Regions from separate parts of the Homo sapiens genome. Here all the other regions are reported to be linked to region 4. The links are microRNA targets in miRTarBase. Many come from high-throughput screens and were not tested one by one. Region 4 holds a microRNA gene; each other region holds the end of a gene's coding sequence.

What was found. The annotated mature microRNA hsa-miR-6751-5p reads UUGGGGGUGAGGUUGGUGUCUGG and lies in region 4 at 2,568-2,590, shown strand. An mRNA with a match to its seed (bases 2 to 7 or 8) in the 3' UTR can be bound and repressed. Matches are read on the target gene's strand: a 7mer-m8 pairs with bases 2 to 8, a 7mer-A1 pairs with bases 2 to 7 and ends in A, and an 8mer does both.
Region 1: the mRNA of HOXA7 is a reported target of hsa-miR-6751-5p. Seed matches in the 3' UTR shown: 7mer-m8 at 3,052-3,058, 8mer at 2,952-2,959, 8mer at 2,877-2,884 and 7mer-m8 at 2,482-2,488.
Region 2: the mRNA of ZNF251 is a reported target of hsa-miR-6751-5p. Seed matches in the 3' UTR shown: 7mer-m8 at 1,284-1,290.
Region 3: the mRNA of PLD3 is a reported target of hsa-miR-6751-5p. Seed matches in the 3' UTR shown: 7mer-m8 at 3,840-3,846, 7mer-A1 at 3,782-3,788 and 7mer-m8 at 3,737-3,743.
Region 5: miRTarBase lists ASB16 as a target of hsa-miR-6751-5p. The part of its 3' UTR that is shown has no 7-base or 8-base seed match.
Region 6: miRTarBase lists ZC3H12D as a target of hsa-miR-6751-5p. Seed matches in the 3' UTR shown: 7mer-m8 at 1,696-1,702.

Annotation. Positions count from the first base shown.
Region 1 is chr7:27,151,695-27,156,510 of GRCh38, forward strand. HOXA7 (homeobox A7) reads right to left here. Exons shown (of 2, transcript NM_006896.4): 1 at 4,473-4,816; 2 at 2,022-3,528. The coding sequence ends at 3,215. HOXA3 (homeobox A3) reads right to left here and starts at 889. Exons shown (of 6, transcript NM_153631.3): 1 at 594-889. HOXA-AS3 (HOXA cluster antisense RNA 3) reads left to right here. Exons shown (of 3, transcript NR_038832.1): 3 at 600-4,234. RefSeq lists an enhancer at 2,825-3,409.
Region 2 is chr8:144,717,475-144,722,457 of GRCh38, reverse strand. It overlaps ZNF251 (zinc finger protein 251), which reads left to right. Exons shown (of 5, transcript NM_138367.2): 5 at 1-1,549. The coding sequence ends at 814. Among named protein-coding and RNA genes, the nearest start is that of ARHGAP39, 34 kb to the right of the region's middle.
Region 3 is chr19:40,377,184-40,382,166 of GRCh38, reverse strand. PLD3 (phospholipase D family member 3) reads right to left here. Exons shown (of 13, transcript NM_012268.4): 12 at 4,282-4,381; 13 at 3,682-4,181. The coding sequence ends at 3,994. HIPK4 (homeodomain interacting protein kinase 4) reads left to right here. Exons shown (of 4, transcript NM_144685.5): 3 at 999-1,844; 4 at 2,398-2,896. The coding sequence ends at 2,580. Among named protein-coding and RNA genes, the nearest start is that of MIR6796, 9.8 kb to the right of the region's middle.
Region 4 is chr11:65,128,541-65,132,540 of GRCh38, reverse strand. MIR6751 (microRNA 6751) reads left to right here and starts at 2,563; the gene lies at 2,563-2,625. SYVN1 (synoviolin 1) reads left to right here. Exons shown (of 16, transcript NM_172230.3): 6 at 190-293; 7 at 945-1,071; 8 at 1,168-1,267; 9 at 1,344-1,409; 10 at 1,505-1,621; 11 at 1,718-1,881; 12 at 2,162-2,290; 13 at 2,366-2,539; 14 at 2,626-2,812; 15 at 3,827-3,978. RefSeq lists an enhancer at 142-191.
Region 5 is chr17:44,177,602-44,182,584 of GRCh38, reverse strand. It overlaps ASB16 (ankyrin repeat and SOCS box containing 16), which reads right to left. Exons shown (of 5, transcript NM_080863.5): 4 at 4,863-4,976; 5 at 3,501-4,380. The coding sequence ends at 4,195. It overlaps ASB16-AS1 (ASB16 antisense RNA 1), which reads left to right. Exons shown (of 3, transcript NR_049730.1): 2 at 865-962. Among named protein-coding and RNA genes, the nearest start is that of ASB16-AS1, 6.6 kb to the left of the region's middle.
Region 6 is chr6:149,446,684-149,451,666 of GRCh38, reverse strand. ZC3H12D (zinc finger CCCH-type containing 12D) reads left to right here. Exons shown (of 6, transcript NM_207360.3): 6 at 188-4,872. The coding sequence ends at 984. Among named protein-coding and RNA genes, the nearest start is that of ZC3H12D, 36 kb to the left of the region's middle. RefSeq lists an enhancer at 1-500.

The DNA.
Region 1 (4,816 bases), not on the chromosome of region 4:
TTTCCCCCTTCTACCTTTCTCTCTGAAACCAATTCCCACGGAGTAGAAAGTGCTGTGCTGATGCTAATAAAATGCCTGTGGATTAATGCACTTTGCCCTCACCTCTTCCCACCTTCCCAGGTCAAGGATGGTCTCCTCTTGTTGGGGAATCCAACAAAACCAAATAGGGCCATGAATGAAAACACAAAAATCCAAACCCAAAGGGCTGGCGGGGAACACAGTGTGCCGGGCCACTTCCTTTTGGGCTTCACGGGGTCGCTAGGGAAGGGGAGAGAGACGACCCAAGGGATGCTGCCCTGTGCCTTGGCGCTGTGCCACGGAGGGCCGAAGGAAGGCGGGCACTTACTGCCAAGGCGAGCCAGGGAGGGGAGAGAAAGGGAGTGGTGTGTGTGTGTGTGTGCGTGCGCGCGTGTGTGCCTGTGTGTGTGACGTGTGTGGGCTGTAGTGTGTGATGGGGGCAAGTGTGAATGGGTGAGTATGGGTAAGGGGGAGTATGCCCCTCTTAAAGCCTCCCTGGGTGCCCTCTCCCACCGCTACCGCCGCCGGCTGTCGCCTCACCACCTTTGCTCCTATCTCCTCCCCACATGTCTCACCTTCAGACGGTGGCTCCCAGAAGCTCCTGCCCCTCTGACAGCTGTCGCTTGGGCAGCCCGAGAGAAGAATTGTCCTCTTTCCTGGTGCCAGAGGACGCAGGAAATTAGCCAGGTTGCGAGTTGCAAAGCTGCTGCCGCGGCGCCGGGAACGGAGCGCGCCCAATCTCCAGCGGGAGCCGCCAGGCCTGGCCTGGCCGGGGCTTCCCTTCGCTCGCCATCTCCGGACAAAGCACAGCCGAGCCCGGCTGGAAGGCAGAGCTCCGAAGCAGGCAGGACGGAGCGGAGCAAAAGAATGCGGCTCTATTCTCGCAAGGGAAATTATAAAAAAGTTCATGTTCACGGTTCTCATCCACATGACCGACAGCGGCCAATGGAAGGGCCGAACAACTCATAAAGTTGTATTGCAAAGTTGTAAATTTTCATAAACAACAACGGATTTATGACCCTTTCCCCATCACTGAGAGGAGGCAGCTCTTACACCGGCGCCATCTTACCACCGAGGCCGCCCCGACTTGGGGCCTCAGGTTTTACAGACCCTTTTGGGCCAGGTTTTACTAAAAGAGCCATAAGAAGCGGGCCCAGCCCAGGCAGGAGACTGGAGACGAGGTCTTGCAGGCGGAACTCAGGATGCTCTGAGCTGCCCGCACAACCCCTGGACCTTCACCCCTCGCCCCTTCCCCGCATCCAGCTGCCCCAGCCCCTGCCCAGGCTGCGTAGCCTAGCGGGGGTCTGCGGTCCTAGCCCCTCCCCGCGCCACCTACTGCAGTGCCGGACCCTGGGGCCCCCTCGCCTGGTCTGCAGGCGGGGTGGGGACCTTAAATCCCATTTCCTAGCCTGGGGCTGGGTTCAGGGCGCATGCGAATCCGGAATCAGCTCTGGGTAATGCCCCTTTCCAAGCCCACTGCTCAGCCTTAGAGGAAAGTGTGGATTTGAAATTTCCTCATGGAATTGATGGAGGTTTTTAGGTAGATTCATAGAATATAACGTATCTACCAAAGATTCCGTTTTCAAGGGATCTAGAAGATGTTAGTGCACACGCAAAAACCAGACAAACGTCTCTACACGGATAAAGGCACATATACAATTATGCACACAGGGAAGGGCATACACTCTATTGTGGGCACAGAATGACATGCAATTATGGACACACAAAAACACATGCACCCAATTATGGACACCAAAATATATACAATTGTGGAATTAGGTAAAAACACACACACAGAAATACATACACAGAAAAATAAGCACATACTCATACAAATACACACATAAAAATACATTAAAAAGATACATGACACCAATACATGGGTACCCAACACTTGGACCATCACAAGGACAGCCACCCCACTTTTGCTTCCCCACTGCCCCCTGCCCTCCAGCCATACTCACCTCCCCTTTCCCAGTCCCCTCTGGATAAGGCAGTCCACATTTTTCTTTGTCACCACGCATCTTTATTTTCGGTTACATAAAACACAGCTGGGCTGGGAAGTGTGCCTTCCCTGAACCCCAGGATGGAGCTGAGCAGGGTACAGGACAACACAGGAGATGAAGGGCATTGCGGAGGGCATTGGACCTCCCCACCCACTACAGTTAACTCAAGACAACATACCATGCTACAAAGTCACCCCATTAACACATCCTTTCCAAGTCAAGACACTGCCTTACAAATGAACTCCAAGACTATAGAAATGATAAAAAAAAATCTTGTTCAAATATACAGTATCTGCTATTATAGGAAACATCAGGGCGTACATATTTAACACAGCTGAACAGTAAGATACAGGAGCCAGAGGAAAGGACAGCGAAGCTGGAAGCATCTCCACAGTCCTGCTAAGCAGAAGCTAACCCACAGATCTGCAGCCAGCTCAGGAACATTCCCCTCCAGAAGTGGGGGTTGATGGGCCTGAGCTGTGGGTGCCAAGCCAGAGAAGGAGGGATTGATTCTAGGGTGCAAGCACTTAGGATGCTTTTTGGAATAAATATATTATTTTTCGATTTAAATAGATGCCAATACCCTGATCCTGGACCTCAGCACATTCTCAGGGCAGCCTCAGGGACCCCAAAAGCTGCGGGCTGTAAGCAGCAGGGGACTTGCCTGGGAGCAGTCGGCACTAGGTAGCAGGCAAGCCAGCCAGCACAAAATAGGTAGTTTTAGGGGAGTAGGTAGTAGTGAGATTCACTTTCTTGCGGGTCTGGGAGGGTGGTGCTGGGTGTCTGCCAGTGTTGGGATACATAGGGACTTCCTGGGAATGGAGGCCCTCTGGGGCTGGATACATAGGTAGTTTGGGGGTGCCTCGAGCAGAGGCCTGTGCTAGGTAGTATTTTGGACGCGCCAGAGCAGGGCCGGCTGGCCTGGGGTTGGGGGTGTCTTTTGGGGTCCTCGGAGGCAGAGGGAATCCAAGGCGACCCAGTCTCTGCGGCCGCTCAGTCCACAAAAGTTGGGAGCTGGAGTAGGTGATGGGGGTGGGTAGAGTGCAGGTTGGGGACTGGGTTGCTTTTTTGTTTTTGTTTTTGTTTTTTACATTTTCTTTTATTTTTCCCATTTTTGTAAGTAAAACCAGTGAGTCTCTTAAAGACGCTTTTCCGACTGTCCGGTGCAGAGAGGGCCCCGGATCGGCCCCTCATTCCTCCTCGTCTTCCTCTTCTTCATCATCGTCCTCCTCGTCGGCCTTGTCCGCGGCAGCAGTGGCGGCGGCAGAGGGCACGGCGCCCTCGGGAGCTGCGGCGGCAGTCGGACCTTCGTCCTTATGCTCTTTCTTCCACTTCATGCGGCGGTTCTGGAACCAGATCTTAATCTGGCGCTCGGTGAGGCAGAGCGCGTGGGCGATTTCAATGCGGCGGCGCCGCGTCAGGTAGCGGTTGAAGTGGAACTCCTTCTCCAGCTCCAGCGTCTGGTAGCGCGTGTAGGTCTGGCGGCCCCGCTTCCTGTCAGGTCCTGAGAACAGACATGCAGACACATGAACACAAGGACAGACAAGTAGACAGGGCACTCGTTAGGCTGCTGTCCCAGAGCCCGCACCTTCCTCCTGGCCTAGTCCCCAGCGAGCATCCCCCTCTGCCCCAGGCCCCGAACTGAGCTAGGGGAGGAGGGGGAGTGTTAGGGAAAGACCCCAACTGCAGTGCCAGACGCGCAGGCAGCTCTGTAATGAGCAAAGGCACAGAATCTCAACTTTACAACCGACCTTTCCAGCCGGCTAAGCTTCCACAATGTCCTGCTTCCTCTGACAAAGGAAAACTGTAAATATAGAGTGTGAGCAAGTGGGAAACGCTGCACTTTTGCCATTCAAAGATGAGCCCGGCCATTCCCCTGCCTTGCTAGGCAAGTGGGCGACTCTTCCCAGCAGCCTGAGCCCTCATCCCCAGGACCTTCCTAGGGCACCCCGACCCTCTGTCCTCATTCCCTCGCCCCCATCTTGAAATGGACCCTGGCACAGGGTCGGGTGAGAGGCCCTGGAGGGCTTGGCTCTCCTAGCTTTTGAGAAAGAAATGTCAGGCAGCAAGGAAAATGAGGAGAGAGAGAAGAAGAAAGGGAGGGAGGGTGACAGAGGAGGGAGAAAGAGAGACAGAATAGCGAACAAACTTAATGTTAAAATTCCAAGACAAATGGAGTTAAATAAATTTACGAGGATCGAACCCATTAATTGGGCCATAAAAAGTTTTATGAGCCTCATTTACATACAATGCTATGGGCTCCACGCAATGGCGCCTCCGCTCCAATTAAAACCAGAAAGGCTGCGCCGGGAGTCACGGGGCTACCGGCTCGCAACAGCCTGGCTCCGCTCTTCCGGCCCCGCGCCCCGCGCTCCGCGCTCCCCAGCGCTGCGCTCCCCGCTCCCGGTCCCGCTCCGCCAGCCTGGCCCGCCTAGCGACTGCGCCTACCTGAAGACCGCATCCAGGGGTAGATGCGGAAATTGGCCTCAGCCGCGCCATGCAGCGCGCCCTCGTCCGTCTTGTCGCAGGCGCCTTTGGCGAGGTCACTGCAGAGCCCGGGGATGTTTTGGTCGTAGGAGGCGCAGGGCAGGTTGCCGTAGGCGTCGGCGCCCAGGCCGTAGCCGGACGCAAAGGGGCTCTGATAAAGGGGGCTGTTGACATTGTATAAGCCCGGAACGGTCGAGGCGAAGGCGCCGGCGCCCGCCCCGTAGCCGCTTCTCTGTGAGTTGGGAGCAAAGGAGCAAGAAGTCGGCTCGGCATTTTGGAACAGAGAAGCCCCCGCCGTATATTTG
Region 2 (4,983 bases), not on the chromosome of region 4:
AGAGAAACCCTATGTATGTAATGAATGCGGCAGAGCCTTTGGTTTTAACTCTCATCTTACTGAACACGTAAGGATTCACACAGGAGAAAAACCCTATGTTTGTAATGAGTGCGGCAAAGCCTTTCGTCGGAGTTCCACTCTTGTTCAGCATCGAAGAGTTCACACTGGGGAGAAGCCCTACCAGTGCGTTGAATGTGGGAAAGCTTTCAGCCAGAGCTCCCAGCTCACCCTACATCAGCGAGTTCACACTGGAGAGAAGCCCTATGACTGTGGTGACTGTGGGAAGGCCTTCAGCCGGAGGTCAACCCTCATTCAGCATCAGAAAGTTCACAGCGGAGAGACTCGTAAGTGCAGAAAACATGGTCCAGCCTTTGTTCATGGCTCCAGCCTCACAGCAGATGGACAGATTCCCACTGGAGAGAAGCACGGCAGAGCCTTTAACCATGGTGCAAATCTCATTCTGCGCTGGACAGTTCACACTGGTGAGAAATCCTTTGGATGTAATGAATATGGAAAAGCTTTCAGTCCCACCTCACGACCCACTGAAGATCAGATAATGCATGCTGGGGAAAAGCCCTATAAATGTCAAGAATGTGGAAACGCCTTCAGTGGAAAGTCAACCCTTATTCAACATCAGGTAACTCACACTGGTCAGAAACCATGTCATTGCAGTGTGTATGGGAAAGCCTTCAGCCAGAGTTCACAGCTCACACCACCTCAGCAGACTCGTGTTGGAGAGAAACCTGCTTTAAATGATGGCTCTAAAAGATACTTTATTCATATCAAGAAGATTTTCCAAGAAAGACATTTTTAATGTGATAAATGCAGAAGACAGTTTAGCAACTGTTCACTTGACATTAGAAGATAAGATGGCATAATGAAAGATATATAAGGTCTAAATATTACTGGCAAAGTAAAATAAATAGTTCAGATGACTACTAAAGTCAAAGTCATTAAATCTGGAAGTAAACACGAGAATTCATTCTGGGAAATCAGGCTGTCTGTGTAAAGGTTACTGCTGTGCTCAGGAGTTGAACCGTGTGGTGCTGTATCCGGATACTCATGACGAATGGATGGAGGGCGTGAAAAGTGAGCCCAGCTGGTGCTCTGGGTCTACCCTACCTGACATCCTTCCAGTCTTATCCTTTGTTTCCTATCCAGGCCCAGGCTTGTGGCTGAGAACATCCACTTTCAGTCCCATATACCTGCCTCCAAGTGTGGTACAGAGAACTTGGGCCTGCTGGGGGCGCTTAGCCTTACTCTCTCCACCACCTCTCCCACCAACCCCCAGATGAACTGCAGGTAGACGTTTCTTCCTTGCTTGGAGCCCCAGTTTTTGCATTTCATTTTCATTAAAATGAAAGGTGGTTTGGTTTTGGTTCTAAGGAGCTCTACAGTTTAACAGAGAGAGGGACCTTAGGGGCCAAGAAAGCAGGGGCCTACCAAGTATCTCCACTTTTGAAAATTGTAATTACTGATAAAAAATTTTTTAAAGGCAGGTTTATTGAAGCATAATTTATAAACAATAAAATTTACTCTTTTTAGTGTATAGTTCTTTGGGCTTTGACAAAAACATACAATTGTGCCACTACCACATTCCAGACATTGAACATCTTCACCACCACCCAGAATTCCTTTGTGCTCTCTTGTGGTTAACCCCTCCTCAACCCCAGTCCGTGGAAACCACTGGTTTGTTTTCTATCCTCTATCCATCACCTCACCATTTCCAGAAATAGTGTGCAGCTGTTTGCACGTGGCTGCTTTTACTGAACATGATGCATTGGAGTCATCCATATTGCCTGTGTAGAGTGCTTTTTTGCACCGAGTAGCATTCCATTGTATGGATGGAGCCATTTGTTTATCCGTTCACCCATGGCAGGGTATTTGGGCATTTTCAGTATGGGCAACTATGATTAAAGCTGCCATCACTGTGTATCAACTACAGGCTGTTTTGTGAATCTAACTTTTCAGTTATCTTGGGTAAATAGGAGTGGGATTGCTGGGTCATATGGTAAGCTTATGTTTAACATTTTAAGAAACTGCCAAACTTTTACAAAGTCAGTTGTATATCCCCACTGATGATGTGTGAGTTTAGTTGCTTTGAATCCTCACCAGATCTTGGTATTGTCCTTTTTTTTTTTTTTTTTTTTCCGAGGCGGAGTTTTGCTCTTGTTGCCCAGGCTGGAGTGCAATGGCGCGATCACGGCTCACCACAACCTCCGCCTCCCGGGTTCAATTCAAACGGTTCTCCTGCCTCAGCCTCCTGAGAAGCTGGGATTAGAGGCATGCACCACCACGCCCGGCTAATTTTGTATTTTTAGTAGAGACGGGGTTTCTCTATGTTGGTCAGGCTGGTCTCCAACTCCCGACCTCAGGTGATCCACCCACCTCAGCCTCCCAAAGCGCTGGGATTACAGGCATAAGCCAACGTGCCCAGCAGTATTGTCCATTTTTTAATATTCTAGCTATTTTAGTGGAGATGTAGTGGTATCCATGGTTTTAATTTGCATTCTCCTATTGACCATGGTTTGATCAGTAAGCATCTATTTAAAGAGTTTCATTGGGAAGTTTGAATAACACTGTAGTAGTTTCTCAGAGTGTGATCACCTGTGAAATTCTGATCTTCAATTCTTTTTTTTTTTCTCCTTTTTTCTGAAACAAAGTCTCGCGTTGTCACCCAGGCTGGAGTGCAGTGGCACGATCTCAACTCACTGCAACCTCCGCCTCCCAGGTTCAAGCGATTCTTCTGCCTCAGCCTCCCGAGTAGCTGGGACTACAGACGCGTGCCACCACGCCCAGCTAATTTTTGTATTTTTCTTAGAGACGGGGTTTCACCATGTTGGCCAGGGTGGTCTCAAACTCCTGACCCCATAATCCGCCCTCCTCAGCCTCCCAAAGTGCTAGGATTACAGGTGTGAGCCACCACGCCCGGCCTCTGATTTTCAATTCTGAGACTCTACCTGCAAGAATCTTTTTTCTTTTCTTTTCTTTTCTTTTTTTTTTTTTGAGACGGAGTCTCATTCTGTCGCCCAGGCTGGAGTGCAATGGCGCAATCTCTACTCGCTGCAAGCTCCACCTCCTGGGTTCACACCATTCTCCTGCCTCAGCCTCCCAAGTAGCTGGGACTACAGGCGCCCGCCACCACGCCCAGCTAATTTTTTGTATTTTTTAGTAGAGACGGGGTTTCACTGTGTTAGCCAGGATGGTCTCAATCTCCTGACCTCGTTATCCGCCCGCCTCGGCCTCCCAAAGTGCTGGGATTACAGGCATGAACCACCGTGCCCGGCCAAGAATCTTTTTTCAAATCTACCTTTCATTCCCTCCAGGTCTAACTGAAATATTTCCCCCCTTCAAGGAGCCTACCTTAGTTAATCTCTCATTCCATCTTTGTTTTCTTTTTTTCTTTTGAGACAGTGTCTCACTCTTATCACCCAGGCTGGAGTGCAGTGAAGCGATCACAGGTCACTGCAGCCTTGACTTCCTGGGCTCAAGCAACCCTCCGACCTCAGCTCCCAAGTAGCTGGGACTACAGGCACACACCACCATACCCAGATAATTTTTTAATTTTTTGTAAAGATGGTGTCACACCATGTTGCCCAGGCTGGTCTTGAACTCTTGGAGTCAAGCGATCCACCCACCTTGCCCTTCCAAAGTGCAGGTCTTACAGGCGTGAGCCACGGCGCCTGGCCTTACTGTTTTCTTAGGGAATTTGGGGTCACCGCTACATTTGGTTTAACATCCATTCTGTGATTTGCTGCGCTTATTCCCCCGCTCAGGTTCTGTCTCCCCCACTTTATTATTAAAATTCTTATCACAGAACCTCTTCCAAGTGTGGGAATTGCCAGCCTTAGTGTGGTCCATGTGGAATGGTCCACACAAAAGAGGGAGTGGATAGCACAGGCTCACCTGGAGGGTCCTGTCTCCCTCTGAAATGGATTCACTCTGACCTCAGGGAAAACACTGAATCTTCTTGGGTCTCTTTTTCTCCAGCTCTAAAATGGGGGAAAAAAACACCTCCCCCACGTCTAAAAAATAACTCTTTTACCCTTGTATCCCACAGCACAACATTCATATCCCCACCATTTCAACTTACATTTTCCTTTCTACCTCGTTACCCTACATTATACGGAGAACTCTCTGCTGTCAGAGATGTTGTCTTATGCACCTTTTTATCTCCAGCACACGATACAGAACAGGTGCTTAGGATGTACTTGGGAAGGAAGGAAGAGAGGTGAAGGAGGCAGAGAAAGGAAACAGTGCCAAGAATGTGCTTTGCGTAAATGTGAACCTTGTGTTCTGCTTCTGCTCTGTCCATGAGCACACTGGGTACATTAAAATTGTTTTCTCCTTCTGATCTACTGGAAAGGTCCCACAATGATGCCTCCCTTAAGAGGCCCACAGGCCTCACATTTACGTAGAATGGAAGGAAGCACCGGGGCATGGGAGGGCTTGTGGGTGGCTCTAAGGGCTGTTGTGACACGTACTTGCTGTGGACCCTGGGACTGAGGATGTTAGTAGGACAATGCATGGTTAAGCACCAAGAGAGCAAGGGAACACCTCAGGGGTAAAAATGAAGACCGAAATGAAAGTCAGAGCTTCCCACCTGGAAACTGATGCTAGGACAGCTCTGGGGCTCGTTTACAGCCCCCATGAAGACAGGCCTGGGTGGCTTGAGGGTGATGGTTGGAACCTGGGCCCCTGTCTAAAGCTGGAACCCCAAAGGGTTGAACCCCCTGTATAAAGACAGACTAGGAAAAAAATCCACCTGCGCATAAGGAGATGCTGGGCAGTCTCTACAAGTTTAGGAGATGGAGATGGAGCTGGAGTCCTGGGAGTCCAAGGTGACTAGAAGTCAAAGGAGCAGAAGAAAACTAACACAACAGAAGTAAATATACTCAAGCAAGCATCTGGAGATACTAAAAACATCTAGAATCAGATATTTTAAAACTAAAAAGTGTCTCATCCTATATTCTGTACCCCCAA
Region 3 (4,983 bases), not on the chromosome of region 4:
TGCACCACTACACCCCAGTCTGGGCGACACAGCAAGACCCTGTTTAAAAAAAAGGATCTAAGGCCAGGCACAGTGGCTCACACCTGTAATCCCAGCACTTTGGGAGGCCGAGGTGGGTGGATCACCTGAGGTCAGGAGTTCGAGAACAGCCTGGCCAACATGGTGAAACCCCATCTCTACTAAAAATACAAAAATTAGCTGGGCATGGTGGTGGACACCTGTAATTCCAGCTGCTCAGGAGGCTGAGGCAGGAGAATCGCTTGAACCTGGGAGGTGGAGGTTGCAGTGAGCCGAGATTGTACCACTGCACTCCAGCCTGGGCAACAAGAGTGAAACTCTGTCTCACACACATACAAAAAAAAAAAAAAAAAAAAAAAAAAAAGGATCTGAGTGAGACCTCAGGTGAGTCTAGAGGTTTGGGGCAGCAGCCAGTCTGCTACCTCTGTGGCTTTGCCCCTCCCATCTGTGCAGCAAGAGCCTGGGTTAGACAGCAGAGGGGACTAGGAGTTTGAGGTCATAGGTCTTGATTTCACAGCAAGAAGGGTCTGGATGGGACCACAGGTGAGACTAAAAGTCAATGGCAGTTTAATAGCAGGGGGTGACAAACTACTATAGCAAGAAGGGTCTGGGTTTGACCACCAGGAGGCCTGGGATCAAGTGTGGAGCTGTGGCAGTAAGAGGGACCTGGATTTGATTCCAGGGAGGACTAGAGATTCCGGGCAGCCCTTCTGCTAGCTGCTGGTAGGGGCTGCACCCATGGTGCTGAAGGGGACTGGAGGTCTGGGGCAAGGGGTGGAACTTGGGCCAGTGATTTGGGTTCGATTAGAGGGGCTTGGGTGTGACGGATCCAGGGTGGCCCTCCTAGCAGCCAGAGAGCTCCAAGGCAGATCATGGGCAGACCTGGAAGTCGGGGCTACATGTGGGTGCCACAGCAGGAGTGCCCAGGGCCCTAGCCCTGCACAATGGTCAACCCTGCCCCCTTCTCCATGCCCCGCCAGGTGCGCCCATTGGAGCGCCGCAAGTATATGCTCAAGTCGTTGGACCAGATTGAGACAGTGAATGGTGGCAGTGTGGCCAGTCGGCTAACCTTCCCTGACCGGGAGGCGCTGGCGGAGCACGCCGACCTCAAGAGCATGGTGGAGCTGATCAAGCGCATGCTGACCTGGGAGTCACACGAACGCATCAGCCCCAGTGCTGCCCTGCGCCACCCCTTCGTGTCCATGCAGCAGCTGCGCAGTGCCCACGAGACCACCCACTACTACCAGCTCTCGCTGCGCAGCTACCGCCTCTCGCTGCAAGTGGAGGGGAAGCCCCCCACGCCCGTCGTGGCCGCAGAAGATGGGACCCCCTACTACTGTCTGGCTGAGGAGAAGGAGGCTGCGGGTATGGGCAGTGTGGCCGGCAGCAGCCCCTTCTTCCGAGAGGAGAAGGCACCAGGTATGCAAAGAGCCATCGACCAGCTGGATGACCTGAGTCTGCAGGAGGCTGGGCATGGGCTGTGGGGTGAGACCTGCACCAATGCGGTCTCCGACATGATGGTCCCCCTCAAGGCAGCCATCACTGGCCACCATGTGCCCGACTCGGGCCCTGAGCCCATCCTGGCCTTCTACAGCAGCCGCCTGGCAGGCCGCCACAAGGCCCGCAAGCCACCTGCGGGTTCCAAGTCCGACTCCAACTTCAGCAACCTCATTCGGCTGAGCCAGGTCTCGCCTGAGGATGACAGGCCCTGCCGGGGCAGCAGCTGGGAGGAAGGAGAGCATCTCGGGGCCTCTGCTGAGCCACTGGCCATCCTGCAGCGAGATGAGGATGGGCCCAACATTGACAACATGACCATGGAAGCTGAGGTGAGCCGGGTGCGTTCAGGATACGATTAGGGTGGGAGGAGGCTCAGCACACACTCACCCGTGCTCAGGATATGATTAGTGTGTGAGGAGGCTCAACACACACTCACCCATGTTCAGGATACAATTAGGGACTTAGGAGGCTCAGCACACACCTAATACCGTCAAGATATGATAAGGCTCAGCACTTACTCAGCTACTTCCAGGCTGTGACAAAAACTCAGGGCACAGTAATCTACTTATAAGAAGCTTGATAAAGAGCCTGGGCAACATAGTGAGATCCCGTCTGCACCAAAAAATTAGAAATATTAGCTGGTTTTGGTGGCATGCACCTGTAGTCCCAGCTACTCAGGAGGCTGAGGTGGGAGGATCACTTGAGCCAGGGAGGTCGAGGCTGCAGTGAGCTGTCATCACATCACTACAAAGGGGCAATAAAGGCCCAGCACTGGTAAGACCCTAGCACATGCTCACCCTCATCAGGAGGAGGTGACAGAGGCTCAGCAGACACTAATACACTAACACTGCTTGGCTGATGCCCCTCTCTCTTCCCCCACAGAGGCCAGACCCTGAGCTCTTCGACCCCAGCAGCTGTCCTGGAGAATGGCTGAGTGAGCCAGACTGCACCCTGGAGAGCGTCAGGGGCCCACGGGCTCAGGGGCTCCCACCCCGCCGCTCCCACCAGCATGGTCCACCCCGGGGGGCCACCAGCTTCCTCCAGCATGTCACCGGGCACCACTGATGGTGATTCCACCCCTGCCCATCACTGGGGGCTGCGCTAGCTGGGCTGGCATTCCCTCCCAACCTGAACTGCTCCTCAGAGCCATCTCCTGAACCCACAAATTATTCTTACAGAAAGATAGTTATCCAGAAATTCTCATTCCCCGTCTGCGGTGCGGTGCGTGCCTGCACACCTCTCCTAAACACAGCAGGGCTTTGGAGTCTGGCCCATGCTCCTTGGCCAGAAGGACAGCAGGAAAGGGGGCTGCACCCCGCTGGCCCTGCGCTCGCCCTTGGCCCTGCTGCCTCTGTCTATTTCAATATAGAACTGTTCAGCAGTCCTGCTTCAAGCCTGCTCTCACTGCCTGGGGCTTGGACTGGCCCTGGGGGGAATGGGGGCTCCAGGCTGGCACCCAGTGACTTGCTCTGCGATGCTGGGCCCAGTTGACCACTGGCTTAGGCGGGAGCCTGGGCTGCTGTCACACTAGGAGGGAAAAGCTGTGCTTGGTTGACTAACCCTTGTCCTAAATACGCTATGTGCTTGGCGTGTTGGGAATCCACCCTCAGAACATGCTGTGTTCAGTATGTGTTAATCAAGTTTGCCGGATGCTGGGGTCTCCTTGTCTGTTGACCTGTCCTTCCTACATGTTTACAGGGTTGGCATGCACTCACCCACATTTGGGACGTGCTGGGTGTAAATCCACTTGGCAGGCCTAAATTCACACTTGGTGCACACTCTGGTGCTCAGCCATGCTTGTTCACCCTTGGGATGTGGCAATGGTTTGGTCCCTGCTGATCAATCTGGGAACATGCTTCTCTGCAGCACATACCCATGCTGGCTACATGAGTGCTAAGTCCATGCCGGGCCACAGGGTGGCACGCTGCATGCTCAGCACAGGTCAGCCCATGTACACTACATGTTAAGGGCTCAGCACATGCCAACCCATGCCAGCACATGCTGAGGGCTCAGTACATGCTAACCCACACTGGTCACACACTGAGGGCTCAGCACATGCCAGTGACATGTTGAGGGCTCAGCACAAAAAGATGTCCCCACCAGAGGCCCATGCCAGCTGTCCCCTACCCCTGCACCCCATCTCACACCACTCAGTCAGGCACAGGCTGTACAGACAAGTTATTTACTTATTATAACCCTGGGCCCTTTTTGCCCTGGAAAGTGGGGGTGGGCCAGGGGGCCAGGCCCAGCATGCACCCCCATTTCTTTGGGGGCTGATCCCTCCCCCAGCTCTGCTGGGTCCCGGGGCCACAGCGTCAGGCCGGTGGGGGTGGAGGTAGAGGTGGGAGAGCAGGGGAGAGAGCCTGAGGAGCCACAATGGGGCAGACAGAAGCGGGGGCGCGGGGACAGGGACCGTGACCCAGAGCACCTGGGTCCGCGGGGGCCCAGCAGGCCTTGGCCTGCCCACTGGATCGGGCCTCAGAGCAGGCGGCAGGCGTTGCCCACGCTGTCAGCTGAGGTGTCAAGGTCATGGCTGTAAGGGGAGTCCCAGTCCCTCAGGAAAATGGCCTCCAGCTGGCTCCGCAGGCCGCCCCTCCCATTCTGCGTCACCAGCAGCGAGGTGCCCGCCGTCTCCGTGAAGTAGTTGCCAGACCAGTTGGAGGTTCCTAGAGAGGAATGGGTGGAGCATAAGGGCACCCTCGGGGGGCCGCCCCTGGTGTCTGAACCCCCTCTTCTTCAGCGCCCCGTGGTGCTCAAGACACTCACCGATGTAGGTGGCGCGTTCAGTCACCATGTACTTGTTGTGGTTGACACGGGCATATGGGATTCGAGCCTGGGCCTCATCCGCGGGGACCACAAAGAGTTTCTGAGTGGGAGGGGAGGATGGGAAGGAGTGTGAGAGGCAGGGGGAGTCGGAGGAGCCCCGGGATCAGGGAGCAGAGTGTGGAGCGAGATCTGTGGGACTCCACTGCTTCCCACAGAATCCTCGGGGGCCAGAACAGGGCCAGGTGGAGGGGCCCTCTGAGAACGAAAGCTGAAAGGGAGGCCCCGGTGGTCTCATTTGCAAAACACTGTTCCCGGCAGAATGGCTCCTGTTCATTCCTGAGGTCTCATCTCAGATGCCCCCATTTCCAGAACATCTTCCTTGGCCCTTCCCGCTAGGGCAGAGGCTTCCTCTGGGCATCCCCACCCCAGCCCTGACCCCTCTGCCTGTGCCCCCCGACCCTGGCCCTGACCCCTCTGCCTGGGCCTCCTCCATCCCAGCCCTGACCCCTCTGCCTGTGCCCCCCCATCCCAGCCCTGACCCCTCTGCCTGTACCTCCTCCATCCCAGCCCTGACCCCTCTGCCTGTGCCCCCAACCCCAGCCCCGACCCCTCTACCTGCCCACTCCCCCAGTCCTGGTCCCAAACCCTCTCTCTGTGCCCCCCACCCCAGCCCTCACCCCTCTGCCTGGGCCTCCTCCATCC
Region 4 (4,000 bases):
AGCCTGGGCAGCCCCAACAACTCCCCCTCCCCCAGGAAGTTCCCAGAGGGCCAGGTTCAGTGGAGTGTGCCCACCTGACTAGATCGCTGGGGCCATGGTGGGCTTGAGGGTGGGGCTGTCCTAGAGCATTAAACAGCTGTTGGGCCCTGGGCTGACCCCCCCACCCTGCATGTGTGGGGGTCCCCACAGCTCTTATGTTCCTCCTGGGCATCCTGGACTTCCTCTTCGTCAGCCACGCCTATCACAGCATCCTGACCCGTGGGGCCTCTGTGCAGCTGGTGTTTGGCTTTGAGGTAAAACTGGCTTGGGAGGTTGAGAGGACAAGCCCGAGGTGACCCCACATGTGCCTTGAATAACCCAACAGACCCTTCCTCAGCACCTGCTATGTGGCCAACCTGTGCTGGCCACCAAGGGGCAGTGATCAGATATGGCTCCTGCCCTCCACACGCTCACTCCTAGGTGACTGGGGAGACGCACAAAGAGGCTAGGACAGAGGAGGAGCCCCAACCTGGGGCTCAGGAGAGGGTTCCTGGAGGCTCGTGCCGGAGCTAGCTGGTAATGGACAGGAGAGGATTAGTTCCATGGACAACTGGAGGCGTGTCCCTGGCAGAGAGAGAATGTGTTCAGTGACAACAGCTCATATTTGTTGAGTGCGAATTTCACACCAGGCCCTATGCTGAGCTCCTGACCTGCATCTCTTATTCAGCAAGACAATACTGTTATAAAGGAACAGTTAATTATGTCATTTTATAGATAAGTAAACTGAGGTTCACTGAGTTGCCAAAAGTCACAGCTAGTAAGTGGAGGGGCTAGGAGGACCCTGGGTGTGTCTAGAGCCTGTGATTGTACCACTGCACCTGCTGTGCAGAGGCCTTGGGGAGCAATGTGGGTGCAGCAAGGGGGAGCTATGTGTTTACATCCCCCTCGTCCCCCTCTCCCTTCAGTATGCCATCCTGATGACGATGGTGCTCACCATCTTCATCAAGTATGTGCTGCACTCCGTGGACCTCCAGAGTGAGAACCCCTGGGACAACAAGGCTGTGTACATGCTCTACACAGAGCTGTTTACAGGTGAGAGGGGCCTGGGCCTCTCCTGATCTGGACCAGCATCCTCCACTCTGCCTCCTGGCCCTGTGACCTGCTGCTTTCTGCATCCCCTCCCCTCAGGCTTCATCAAGGTTCTGCTGTACATGGCCTTCATGACCATCATGATCAAGGTGCACACCTTCCCACTCTTTGCCATCCGGCCCATGTACCTGGCCATGAGGTGAGCCCGGCCCTGTCCCCCGATCCTCCTGACCTGATCCCGTCCCTTCTCCTGCTTTCACTGACTGTCCTTTCAGACAGTTCAAGAAAGCTGTGACAGATGCCATCATGTCTCGCCGAGCCATCCGCAACATGAACACCCTGTAAGTAGGCTTGTCATGGCTGCTGTCCCAAGCTCGGTCCTGGGTCCCTCTGCTTCCAGCTCTGGACCTGATACAGCCCCTGTCATCCTAACCAGGTATCCAGATGCCACCCCAGAGGAGCTCCAGGCAATGGACAATGTCTGCATCATCTGCCGAGAAGAGATGGTGACTGGTGCCAAGAGACTGCCCTGCAACCACATTTTCCATACCAGGTGGGAGGGGCCCTGGGGAGCCTGCACAGCAGGGCACAGGCCCCAGAAGGCAGGCCCCTAGGGACCTGCTGACCTCTGCCTGGCCTTGACCCGCAGCTGCCTGCGCTCCTGGTTCCAGCGGCAGCAGACCTGCCCCACCTGCCGTATGGATGTCCTTCGTGCATCGCTGCCAGCGCAGTCACCACCACCCCCGGAGCCTGCGGATCAGGGGCCACCCCCTGCCCCCCACCCCCCACCACTCTTGCCTCAGCCCCCCAACTGTGAGTATCCCCTTGTCTGGCCACCCGGCATACCACTGGATACTTGCCCTGGGCTGGATGTGGAAGATGCTGGGAAATTGGAGAGTCCCTGCCCTCCAGAATCTCAGTCTGGGCCAGGGAGGGATTAAAAGATGAGAAATAGATGCTTGCAGTCAGTGTGACCAGTGCTGGGCTGAGGGCCTGTGGGAATAGGACAGAGCTCTCAATAGCCAGGCCCCCTGCCTGGGAGTTGGGTCTGTGTCCATTTGGCCCTTTCCTTACCTCCGTCTTCTCTCTGCAGTCCCCCAGGGCCTCCTGCCTCCTTTTCCTCCAGGCATGTTCCCACTGTGGCCCCCCATGGGCCCCTTTCCACCTGTCCCGCCTCCCCCCAGCTCAGGAGAGGCTGTGGCTCCTCCATCCACCAGTGCAGGTGAGCCTTTGGGTACTGTGACAGCCAGGGGGCGGCAGGGATGGAACACTCACTGACTTCGTTCCTGCTCTTCAGCAGCCCTTTCTCGGCCCAGTGGAGCAGCTACAACCACAGCTGCTGGCACCAGTGCTACTGCTGCTTCTGCCACAGCATCTGGCCCAGGCTCTGGCTCTGCCCCAGAGGCTGGCCCTGCCCCTGGTTTCCCCTTCCCTCCTCCCTGGATGGGTATGCCCCTGCCTCCACCCTTTGGTAAGCTGGGCCACTCTCTGGGTTCTTCTTGGGGGTGAGGTTGGTGTCTGGCCCCAGCAGCCCAGACTGAGCCTCTCTCTCTCCAGCCTTCCCCCCAATGCCTGTGCCCCCTGCGGGCTTTGCTGGGCTGACCCCAGAGGAGCTACGAGCTCTGGAGGGCCATGAGCGGCAGCACCTGGAGGCCCGGCTGCAGAGCCTGCGTAACATCCACACACTGCTGGACGCCGCCATGCTGCAGATCAACCAGTACCTCACCGTGCTGGCCTCCTTGGGGTGTGTCTGTACAGGGGAAGCAGAGTGGGTTTGGTGGGTCAGGAGTGGAGCTGCCAAGAGGTCCCCAGCAGTGGTTCTTGGCCTTTGACACCTGCCAATTCAGGCTGCCTATCTACAGGCCCACCAAGGGTCTCCAGGAGTTCTTGGTAACTCCTGGTGCCTTTATTTCCCACTCCAGAAAGCATGTCTGGATCTAAGTAGGAGTGATGTTTATTCGAGAGCTGACTTTAGATCTTATTCCTTTATATTTTTCTAAAGTCAAATTATTCAGAATTTGCAGTGCTTTAGTTCATCACATGATATTCTTCTGAGATGTGGTGACACTTAGATTGGCAATTGCTGCCCCCAAACTGAGGGAGCGAATAATAGGAAGTCACTTGGAGCCATCCTGGCTCAAGTTCAAGCGCTGGTCCCATCACTCATTTTTGACCTCTCATTATTTGAATAAAGGGGTCTTAATTCATATTCATAAGTGATGTGTACTGCCAGATACACACCTATAATCAGCACTTTGGAAGGCTGAGGCAGGAGGATTGTTTGAGCCTAGGAATTTGAGGGTGCAGTGAGCTATGATTGTGCCACTAAATTCCAGCTTTGGTGACAGAGCCGAGACGCTGTCTTTTAAAAAAGTGACATGTACATAATGCCTGGCATCTAGCAGTGACAGCACAGGCTTGGAGAGGAACTTGAGTCCAAGGCTCGAGCACTGTGGCTTATTGAGTGAGTCCCCTATAAGGTGCCTGACTCCCCAGGGTGGAGACTGCAGGGTAAGAGTGAACAGGTCAACAGTCCCTGCCTGCAAGCACCTTACAGCTAAGGGATAGAATCATTTGGCCCTTGAGTCCAGTCACCCTGTCTGAGTTCATTCAGCATGTTCACTTGTGTTTGCCAGGCACTGGGGCCACAAGGGCACATCATTCTATACTCTGTTCTGCAAGGCTCACCAAGGGCAGGAGAATCTGCCCAACCTTGGATGCCAAGGCCAGGCCCGCCTCTCGTCCCTTCTCTTCCCAGGCCCCCCCGGCCTGCCACTTCAGTCAACTCCACTGAGGAGACTGCCACTACAGTTGTTGCTGCTGCCTCCTCCACCAGCATCCCTAGCTCAGAGGCCACGACCCCAACCCCAGGAGCCTCCCCACCAGCCCCTGAAATGGAAAGGCCTCCAGGTAGGTGTGATTGGCCTCCAGC
Region 5 (4,983 bases), not on the chromosome of region 4:
CTCTTGCCCAGACTGGTCTCAAACTCCTGGGGTCCAGTGATCCTCCTGCCTCAGCCTCCCTTGTAGGTGGGACTACACGGCACCTGGCCCTTGTGTTGTTCTTGTAACAGTTGCTCAATGCAGAAAACTTGGAAACCACAGAACAGCACCAGGGGGTGGGGAATGAACATGGAATGATGGGGACCTCTGTCCCATTTAAGTCAAACAACATCCATACTTTGGTTCCATGGACTAATCATTTATTTGCACTCATAAAAACTGGCTTGCTTTGAAAAGCTTCCTCCAAAAGCTGTATTGTGGTACTTTTGACTCTGGGACAAGAGGAAGAAGTTGGGGAATTCGGGCAGTTGGTGGCTGGGCCCTCAGAGACTGTATGTGGTGACCACTGTTTAAGACACCATTCATCACTTGGGGACGGAGGGAGCACATAGATGGACCCCAGGCTCATGGATGTTCCTCCTTCCGCAGTCATTTACTAAAATACCTGTTCAAGGAATATAGTTCCAGTCTCAGCCTAGTTGAGACAACCACAGGCACTTAAATAAGTACCAAGGAAGCCTCTGCAGAGATAGTGCTATTGGAACTGAGTCCTGAGGGCCAGATCAGCCTTGACCAGGCCAAAAAATGTGGAAGAGTATTCCAAGCGGTAGGAATAACACATGCAAACACCTGAAAGCAAAGAGGAGCAGGTCACATCCAGCAACTGGTGACTTGTTTACTAAGGCTGGAGATGAACCTTGGAAGGAAGAAGGGAAGTCAAGAGGCCAGATAATTTGGCAGAGGCTAGAGGCTCTGTTCTACTGAGTTGTTTTCTCGTTTGTTTTGTTTTGTTTTTTGAGACAGAGTTTTGCTCTTGTCACCCAGGCTGGAATGCAATAGCGTGGTCTTGGCTCACTGCAACCTCCGCCTCCCGGGTTCAAGCAATTCTCCTGCCTCAGCCTCCTAAGTAGCTGGGACTACAGGTATGCGCCACCACGCTTGCTTGGCTTTTTTTTTTTTTTTTTTTTTTTTAACCCTGAGTGGACACAGCACATGTTTCAGAGAGCACAGGGTTGGGGGTAAGGTCACAGATCAACAGGATCCCAAGGCAGAGGAATTTTTCTTAGTGCAGAACAAAATGAAAAGTCTCCCATGTCTACTTCTTTCTACACAGACACGGCAACCATCCGATTTCTCAATCTTTTCCCCACCTTTCCCGCCTTTCTATTCCACAAAGCCGCCATTGTCATCCTGGCCCGTTCTCAATGAGCTGTTGGGCACACCTCCCAGACGGGGTGGTGGCCGGGCAGAGGGGCTCCTCACTTCCCAGTAGGGGCGGCCGGGCAGAGGCGCCCCTCACCTCCCGGACGGGGCGGCTGGCCAGGCAGGGGGGCCGACCCCCCCCCACCTCCCTCCCGGACAGGGCGGCTGGCCGGGCGGGGGGCTGACCCCCCACCTCCCTCCCGGACAGGGCGGCTGGCCGGGCGGGGGGCTGACCCCCCCACCTCCCTCCCGGACAGGGCGGCTGGCCGGGCGGGGGGCTGACCCCCCACCTCCCTCCCGGACAGGGCGGCTGGCCGGGCAGAGGGGCTCCTCACTTCCCAGTAGGGGCGGCTGGGCAGAGGCGCCCCTCACCTCCCAGACGGGGCGGCTGGCCGGGCGGAGGGCTGACCCCCCACACCTCCCTCCCGGACGGGGCGGCTGGCCAGGCGGGGGGCTGACCCCCCTACCTCCCTCCCGGACGGGGCGGCTGGCCGGGTGGGGGGGCTGACCCCCCCATCTCCCTCGCGGACGGGGTGGCTGGCCGGGCTGAGGGGCTCCTCACTTCCCAGTAGGGGCGGCCGGGCAGAGGCGCCCCTCACCTCCCGGACGGGGCGGCTGGCCGGGCGGGGGGCTGACCCCCCCACCTCCCTCCCGGACGGCACGGCTGGCCAGGCGGGGGGCTGACCCCCCCACCTCCCTCCCGGATGGCACGGCTGGCCGGGCGGGGGGGCTGACCCCCCACCTCCCTCCCGGATGGGGCGGCTGGCCGGGCGGGGGGCTGACCCCCCCCCCACCTCCCTCCCGGATGGGGTGGCTGCCCGGCGGAGACGCTCCTCACTTCCCAGATGGGGTGGCTGCCGGGCGGAGAGGCTCCTCACTTCTCAGACGGGGTGGTTGCCAGGCAGAGGGTCTCCTCACTTCTCAGACGGGGCGGCCGTGCAGAGACGCTCCTCACCTCCCAGACGGGGTCTCGGCCGGGCAGAGGCGCTCCTCACATCCCAGATGGGGCGGCGGGGCAGAGGCGCTCCCCACATCTCAGACGATGGGCGGCCGGGCAGAGACGCTCCTCACTTCCTAGATGTGATGGCGGCTGGGAAGAGGCGCTCCTCACTTCCTAGATGGGATGGCGGCCGGGCGGAGACGCTCCTCACTTTCCAGACTGGGCAGCCAGGCAGAGGGGCTCCTCACATCCCAGACGATGGGCGGCCAGGCAGAGACGCTCCTCACTTCCCAGACGGGGTGGCAGCCGGGCAGAGGCTGCAATCTCGGCACTTTGGGAGGCCAAGGCAGGCGGCTGCTCCTTGCCCTCGGGCCCCGCGGGGCCCGTCCGCTCCTCCAGCCGCTGCCTCCCGGGCGGCGCTCGCCGGCGCGGCGGCAAAGACTGAGACAGCTCCGCTGCCCGCTGAACTCCATCCTCCCGGCGGTCGGGCGGCGGCGGCTGCGGTCGGTCGCGGCAGCGGCTCCGCTTCATATCTGCAGCTGGGGCCCGCGGGCGTCAGCGCCGCGACTGTCCCAGTCCGCACTGCCCCGGGCCGCAGCGCAGCCGCGCCAACCACCACCCGCGGCCACCATGGCCAGACGGGCTCCCTAAGCCACCGACCCCAGCCCGCGGTGCCTTCGAGCCTTCTGGGGCCTCCGGCGCCGCGACCTCCTCTGCGCTCCTCACGGAAGACTTTTTTTTTTTTTTTTTTTTAAGACGGAGTCCCGCTCTGTTGCCCAGGCTGGAGTACAGCGGTGCGCGATCTTGGCTCATTGCAACCTCCACCTCCCAGGTTCAAGTGATTCTCCTGCTTCAACCTCCTGAGTAGCTGAGATTACAGGCATCCGCCACTATGCCCGGCTAATTTTTGTATTTTTAGTAGAGACAGGGTTTCACCATGTTGGCCAGGCTGGTCTAGAACTCCTGACCTCGTGATCCGCCCACCTCGGCCTCCCAAAGTGCTGGGATTACAGGCATGAACCACTGCGCCTGGCCTAATTTTTTGTATTTTTAGTAGAGACAGGGTTTTACCATGTTGGTCAGGTTGGTCTCAAACTCCTGACCTCAGGTGATCCTCCCGCCTCAGTCTCCCAAAGTGCTGGGATTACAGGTGTAAGCCACTGCACTCAGCTTGTTTTAAAGAGTTTTGATTTTAGTGTGAGAGGAGCCACTGGAGGGCATGATCAGAGTTTGACTCCCAAAGACCATTCCAGCACCAATTCAGGGCATGGGTCTCAAGATCTCCCTTGGAGTGACAAAGGCAGGGCAGGCAAGCCAGTGCACGCAGAGACAGAGTTTGTCCCTCTTTAGGAGGCTGAACAGGTATAAGGGTGGCAGGAGAGGGAGGTGGTGGGCCACTAGAATCACTGGTTCTTGGCATGGGACCTGGATGGATAGAGGGGCCATCCACTTAAACACAGGAGGAGAAGGGAGGTGAAGGCCGAGTCTGGGAACAGGCCGAGTCTGCAGCCCTTCCTGCTGGAGAGAGGGTCTGAAGCTCAGGTCCGGCTAGAGGTCAGCAGGTGTCTCAAGAAGCCCATGGAGGAGTGAGGTGGACCAGGACAGCACGTGGAGTACAGAAAAGAGGGGCAGGCAACCAGGCGCAGTGGCTCATGCCTGTAATCCCAACACTTTGGGAGGCCAAGGCGGGTGGATCACCTGAGGTCAGTGTGAGACCAGCCTGGCCAACATGGTGAGACCCTGTCTCTACTAAAAATACAAAATCAGCCAGGTGTGGTGACTCATGCCTGTAGTCCCAGCTACTCGGAAGTTTGGGGCACAAGAATCGCTTGAACCTAGGTGGTAGAAGTTGCAGTGAGCCGAGATAGCGCCACTGCACTCCAGCCTGGGCAACAGAGTGAGACTAGGTCTCAAAAAGAAAAGAAAAGAGGGCCAGGAACTGGTCCTCCGCAGTTGGAGGCGGGGACAGGTGGGAGGGGCAGAACACACCATGGGACAGCCTGACATGGGGTTCACTGGATGCACCCCTCCACACGCAGCAGCAGGTAGTCCCTGAGGAGCGGGGGCAGTGGCAGCCGGGTGGCACCCTGCCGGCAGCGGCTTCCCAACCGAGCGCGCACAGCTAGTCGGGCCAGGTGCTGCAGCTGCCTTGGCTGGTTCACCATGCACAGGGCCGAGCTGTAGAAGGCTTCGTGCTCCTAGGCCAGGAGTGAAAGAAGGTCAGATGACCCTTGCCCTACCATCTGGGGGCAACCCAGCGGTGGGGGTCCTGGGATTTTGCAGCATGCACCCACCTGGGTGTTTCATGTGTCTCAAAGGACTCAGATTCAGAACCATAGAGGCCCTGCAGTGATAATGCGGGCTGGGGCTCCACTTCAGGGAAGGGTCTCCACTATGTCTATACCACTCCCACCCCAGAGAGCCTAGCACAGTGCCCACCAAGTTAAGAGATGCCAGATAAATGTCTGTGCTGATGCAAGTGAGGGAGGCAGGAGAGGTGTGTGGAGTTAGGGGTCAGCCTGGGGTACCGGGGGAGGGGGTACCCTGAAACCCAGGGGTGCCACTCTACCCATCCTCTCTACCCAGGGGCCCTCCTGCTGCTCCCTCCATGAGGCTGGTCCTGAAGGAATAGGCCTGTGGCTCGTCCCTCCTCCCCATCTCGGCCCTGAGGCAAACATACCTTCCACAGCTCTGGGAGCACCGCCTCCACCCAGGTCTCACAGGATGGGACACAAGGATAGGCATTAAGCAGGACTTCCAGGGCCCGAGGGAAGTTGGCGCAGTGTTTCAGCATCTAGGGG
Region 6 (4,983 bases), not on the chromosome of region 4:
CCCGCGCCCAGATCTTGAGGCGTTTCCAGGGCGCTGAGTCTGAGGAGTCCGCGGCGGCCTGGGGGCCTGCTTGGAGGAATCTCCACGGAGAGGCCGCGGGCCGGCACTCCCCGGATGCACCAGGAACCACCGCCCCTCCGCGCCCCCGGGCCTCACGTCGCGCCCTCTCTGCCCCCGCCCCTTTCAGGCAAGAAATGCACCTATGGCATCAAGTGCAAGTTCTACCACCCGGAGAGGCCGCACCACGCGCAACTGGCGGTGGCCGACGAGCTCCGCGCCAAGACAGGGGCCCGGCCTGGCGCGGGCGCCGAGGAGCAGCGGCCACCGAGAGCCCCGGGCGGCTCCGCAGGAGCCCGGGCGGCCCCCCGGGAACCATTTGCGCACAGCCTCCCGCCGGCGCGGGGGTCCCCGGACCTGGCCGCCCTGCGAGGGAGCTTCTCTCGGCTGGCCTTCAGCGACGACCTGGGGCCCCTGGGGCCGCCTCTCCCGGTCCCCGCCTGCAGCCTCACGCCCCGACTGGGCGGGCCCGACTGGGTGTCCGCGGGCGGCCGGGTGCCAGGCCCGCTCAGCCTCCCTAGCCCGGAGAGCCAGTTCTCCCCGGGCGACCTCCCGCCTCCGCCCGGCCTGCAGCTCCAGCCGCGGGGCGAACACCGCCCTAGGGACCTGCACGGCGACTTGCTTTCCCCGCGCAGGCCACCCGACGACCCGTGGGCCCGTCCACCCCGCTCCGACCGCTTCCCTGGGCGCTCCGTCTGGGCGGAGCCGGCCTGGGGCGACGGCGCCACTGGGGGACTTTCAGTGTACGCGACCGAGGACGACGAGGGGGACGCGCGCGCCCGGGCTCGCATCGCGCTCTACAGCGTCTTCCCGCGTGACCAGGTGGACCGCGTGATGGCCGCGTTCCCGGAGCTCTCAGACCTCGCCAGGCTCATCCTCCTGGTACAGAGATGCCAGAGCGCGGGGGCGCCCCTGGGCAAGCCCTAAGGGACCAACACGCACTTGCAGGGAATGGCCCAGCCTCGCCTTGCGTCTTGGACGGGTGGACCTGTGGTTGCCAGCCTGGACCTGAGTGGGCCCATCATGGTGCCCCCTTTTCTTTAAAGATGGTCAGGGAAGCCTGCTTCCTCCTCCTGAGCGGGGTTGTGGGGGCCTGGTGGCACTTGGTGATCCTCACTGAGGCCGGGGCCTGCTGCGGGGAGGTCCACCCACTTCCGTGGAGGGAATGATTTTCCATGTGCACGGAGACTGCGGGTCCAAGCTGCAGTAGAACCCACAAGTGGGTCACAAAATCAATTTAGTGGGTCACCACCACAAACACAGTGGACTGGGACAGGGCAAAGCGCACCCTGTGCCATCAGGCTGAGTCTGAACTCTTGTTACCTATCCTGTGTCCCCACCCCCTTGGCAGCCATGTAACTAACCTCAATGTGGGTCGTAGTCAGAAGTTTAAAAAAGACTATGAATGCTCTTGAATTTCATTGCTTCAGGTAATGTTTGAAATATGTAGTCAGGTGGCCAGGGGAGGTTTGCTATCTGGAAGTTTTCATGTTAGCTATTGCTAACCCCACCCGCAAGGGCAGCCCAGCCTCCAGGTGTGGGCTCTCCTGTGCTCTGAATTGTGTGGCTGTCCTATGCTGGGGACAAGTGGTAGGAGCGCTTTGTCCCAGGGCCACCTTCTGGGGCCTTCACACACATACCCCCACCACACAAACACACACACACACACACACACACACACACAGTCTATCATACATGTACATACTCACACACACCACACAGACACATACTGTTTGGCTAAGGGTTAAGTATCTCCAATATTTTATTAGCCATCCATCATGGCAGTTTCCAGAATAGGCTTTCTACTGTACCAGCTGAGCTGCCTTCTTTTACTTCTTCTTCTTCTTCTTTTTTTAAACAGACAGAGTCTCGGCCCGGCATGGTGGCTCATGCCTGTAATCCCAGCACTTTGGAAGGCTGAGGCAGGCAGATCACTTGAGGTCAGGAGTTCGAGACCAGCCTGGCCAACATGGTGAAACCCTGTCTCTACTAAAAATACAAAAATTTAGCCAGGCATGGTGGCATACACCTGTAGTCCCAGCTACTCAGGAGGCTGAGGCAGGAGAATCACTTGAACCTGGGAGGCGGAGGTTGCAGTGAGTTGAGATCATGCCACTGCACTCCAGCCTGGGCAGCAGAGCGAGACTCCGTCTTAAAAAAAAAAAAAAGACAGAGTCTCACTCTGTCACTCTGTCTGGAGTATAGTAGTGTGATCATAGCTCACTGCAGCCTCAAACTCCTGGATTCAAGTGATCCCCCTGCCTCAGCCTCCTGAGTAACTGGGACTGTAAACATGACAGCCGCACTTCACAGTTACACTGGGGCTGGATGAGTCAGGACTTTTGCTCTCAAATCTACAGGTGGGTTAGGAGAAAACTGACATGAGCTCAGTCAGAGTTTATTGCCACCTTCCTGGTGCCGTTTCTTCTAGCCAGCTACTGCTCTGGGTTTGAGGAGAAAGGGCCTACTCATTTGCAATGGCTAAGAAGTGAGATGGTGCTGCCAGAGTGCCGACCCCCGAATCCTCAGGGGCCCTGGCCTCTCCTGGCAGCATCCACCCATTCTGGTTACCATGCCAGCCCTCCAGACTATGGCTCATTTGTTCACTAGAGGGCTTGGTAGCTTGGCAGTTTGGGGAAAGCGGGAGGCACTTCCCAGGGGAAGACCAGAGAAGACCAGCCCCCAGCCCCACAAACTTCCTGCAGCCTGCTGGTGCAGAGGGAACTCTTGCCAGTTTACTACCAGATTTCATGAGATGTTGGCAGGCCTGGGGGGCACCTCAGGGAGAGTGCGTTCCCAGCCCTTTCATTCATGGTAAATGACACCCCTGGGGCATACAGTGATGTTAGGTTTTTCTCTGAAACTTCTTTGATCTTTTAAAACCAGATTCTTAGCATGGATTGAGCCAGATCTGTTCCTTACCCCCTTTTTCCAAAGAGGACGGTGCACCCACAATTTTACCATAACATATTGGGATCTCAGGCCTGAAGATGACCCATTCTTTGTAAATAAGTTGGATTTTCCTCATAATATGTGTGGGTTTTTTTGGTGGGGGAGGAGGGGGCAGGGTTCCGCTCTGTCATCTGTCACCCAGGCTGGAGTGCAGTAGTGCAATCAGGGCTCACTGCAGCTTTGACTTCCCAGGCTCAAGCAATCCTTGTGCCTCAGCCTCCTGAGTAGCTGGGACTACAGTTGTGCCACCACGTCCAGCTAATTTTTTCTATTTTTTGTAAAGACCCAAAGCGTTGGGATTACAGGCATGAGCCACCTCAACGGGCCTTTATTTTTTTTATTTTAATTTTTATTATTATTATTTTTGAAACGGAGTCTCGCTCTGTCACCCAGGCTGGAGTGCAGTGGCGCAATCTTGGCTCACTACATGCTCCACTGCCTCCCAGGTTCATGCCATTCTCCTGCCTCAGCCTCCCAAGTAGCTGGGACTACAGGCGCCCGCCACCACATCTGGCTAACTTTTTGTATTTTTAGTAGAGATGGGGTTTCACCGTGTTAGCCAGGATGGTCTCGATCTCCTGACCTTGTGATCCCCGCCTCAGCCTCCCAAAGTGCTGGGATTATAGGCGTGAGCCACCGCGCCTGGCCCCGGGCCTTTATTTTTATTTTTAACCTTTTGACAAGACACGCTTTCTATTAGAGCTGCTTTTTGTCTCCCTGGTTCGATTTCCTGATGTAGAATCATTGTGTTGCTGATTTTTCAGTTGAAAATGTTTAAACTGCTTCCTTTGAGAACAAGTTTGAGTTTTAGTAAGCTGTAAAGCTGTTTTATTTGATTCACTGTGAATAAGACAAGTACAAAAAAAAAAGTGAAAACACAGCACATTTCAAGTGTAATCCCCTTTGGAATTTTTCCAAAGTCTTAGTATATGTCTTTGTGACAGAAAAACATAGATGGGACAGGTAAATGAAATGTTCCTAGTTGCATAGCTGTTAACCATGCTTCAAAAATAAATCATTTTTTACCACACCTGGATTCTTTATTGTCAAATTGTCTATTAGTTTCTCCTACTGGCTTTCCCCTAGATTGGTCTGTTCTGTTAAAAATTGTGGGTTTAGACTGGGCACGATGGCTCATGTCTGTAATCCCAGCACTTTGGTGGGCTTCATGAGTTCAGGAGTTCGAGACCAGCCTGGTCAACCTGGTGAGACCCTGTCTCTACTAAAAATACAAAAATTAGCTGGGTCCGTGGTGGGGCACACCTGTAATCCCAGTTGCTCGGGAGGCTGAGGCAGGAGAATCACCTTGAACCCAGGAGGCAGAGGTTGTAGTGAGCTGAGACTGTGCCACTGCGCTCTGCACTCCAGCCTGAGCGACAGAGTGAGACTCTGTCTCAAAAAACAAAAAAAAGTAGGCGTGAAGAAGACTGAGGTTGTGGCCAGTCTCAGCAGCCGCAGTTCTGTGTTGTTCCACCTGGGGGGATGTGAGGGGCTCAAATCCACCTTTTCCAGGAGAAGCAGTGAGGCCATGGCAAGGACCTCCCTTTGCTGGATGTGCAGCAGGCAGTTCCCAAGGACACAGGCTGCTTGCCCATTTCCTAGACTTCTAAAATCCTCATTATAGAACTATGAAGCCATCTCATAGAAGCTGCTCTTCTTGTTCAAACATGCAGCAGAGCTCTCCTCGACTGATCAAACCAGAGGCTGTTGCCATCTTGGGTTTGCCCTGAGGCAGCCTTCCCAGAGGCCTCTGGAAGGGGGTTTGGGGTAGAACTGTAGAATGTCAGGGGTTGAGGAGTAGAAGCAAGACAAGCCACTCTAATTGGCATTCTTCCAAATAAAATGGATCCAGCTTTGGTTTGACATTGAGCTCAGCTGAGGAGCCATGCCCCAGCTGCGGCTGGCATGGACACAGCTCAGATGAGGCCACAGAGGCTGTGGGCTTCCGGGGAAAAAGTCCATCTATGGGGTGGG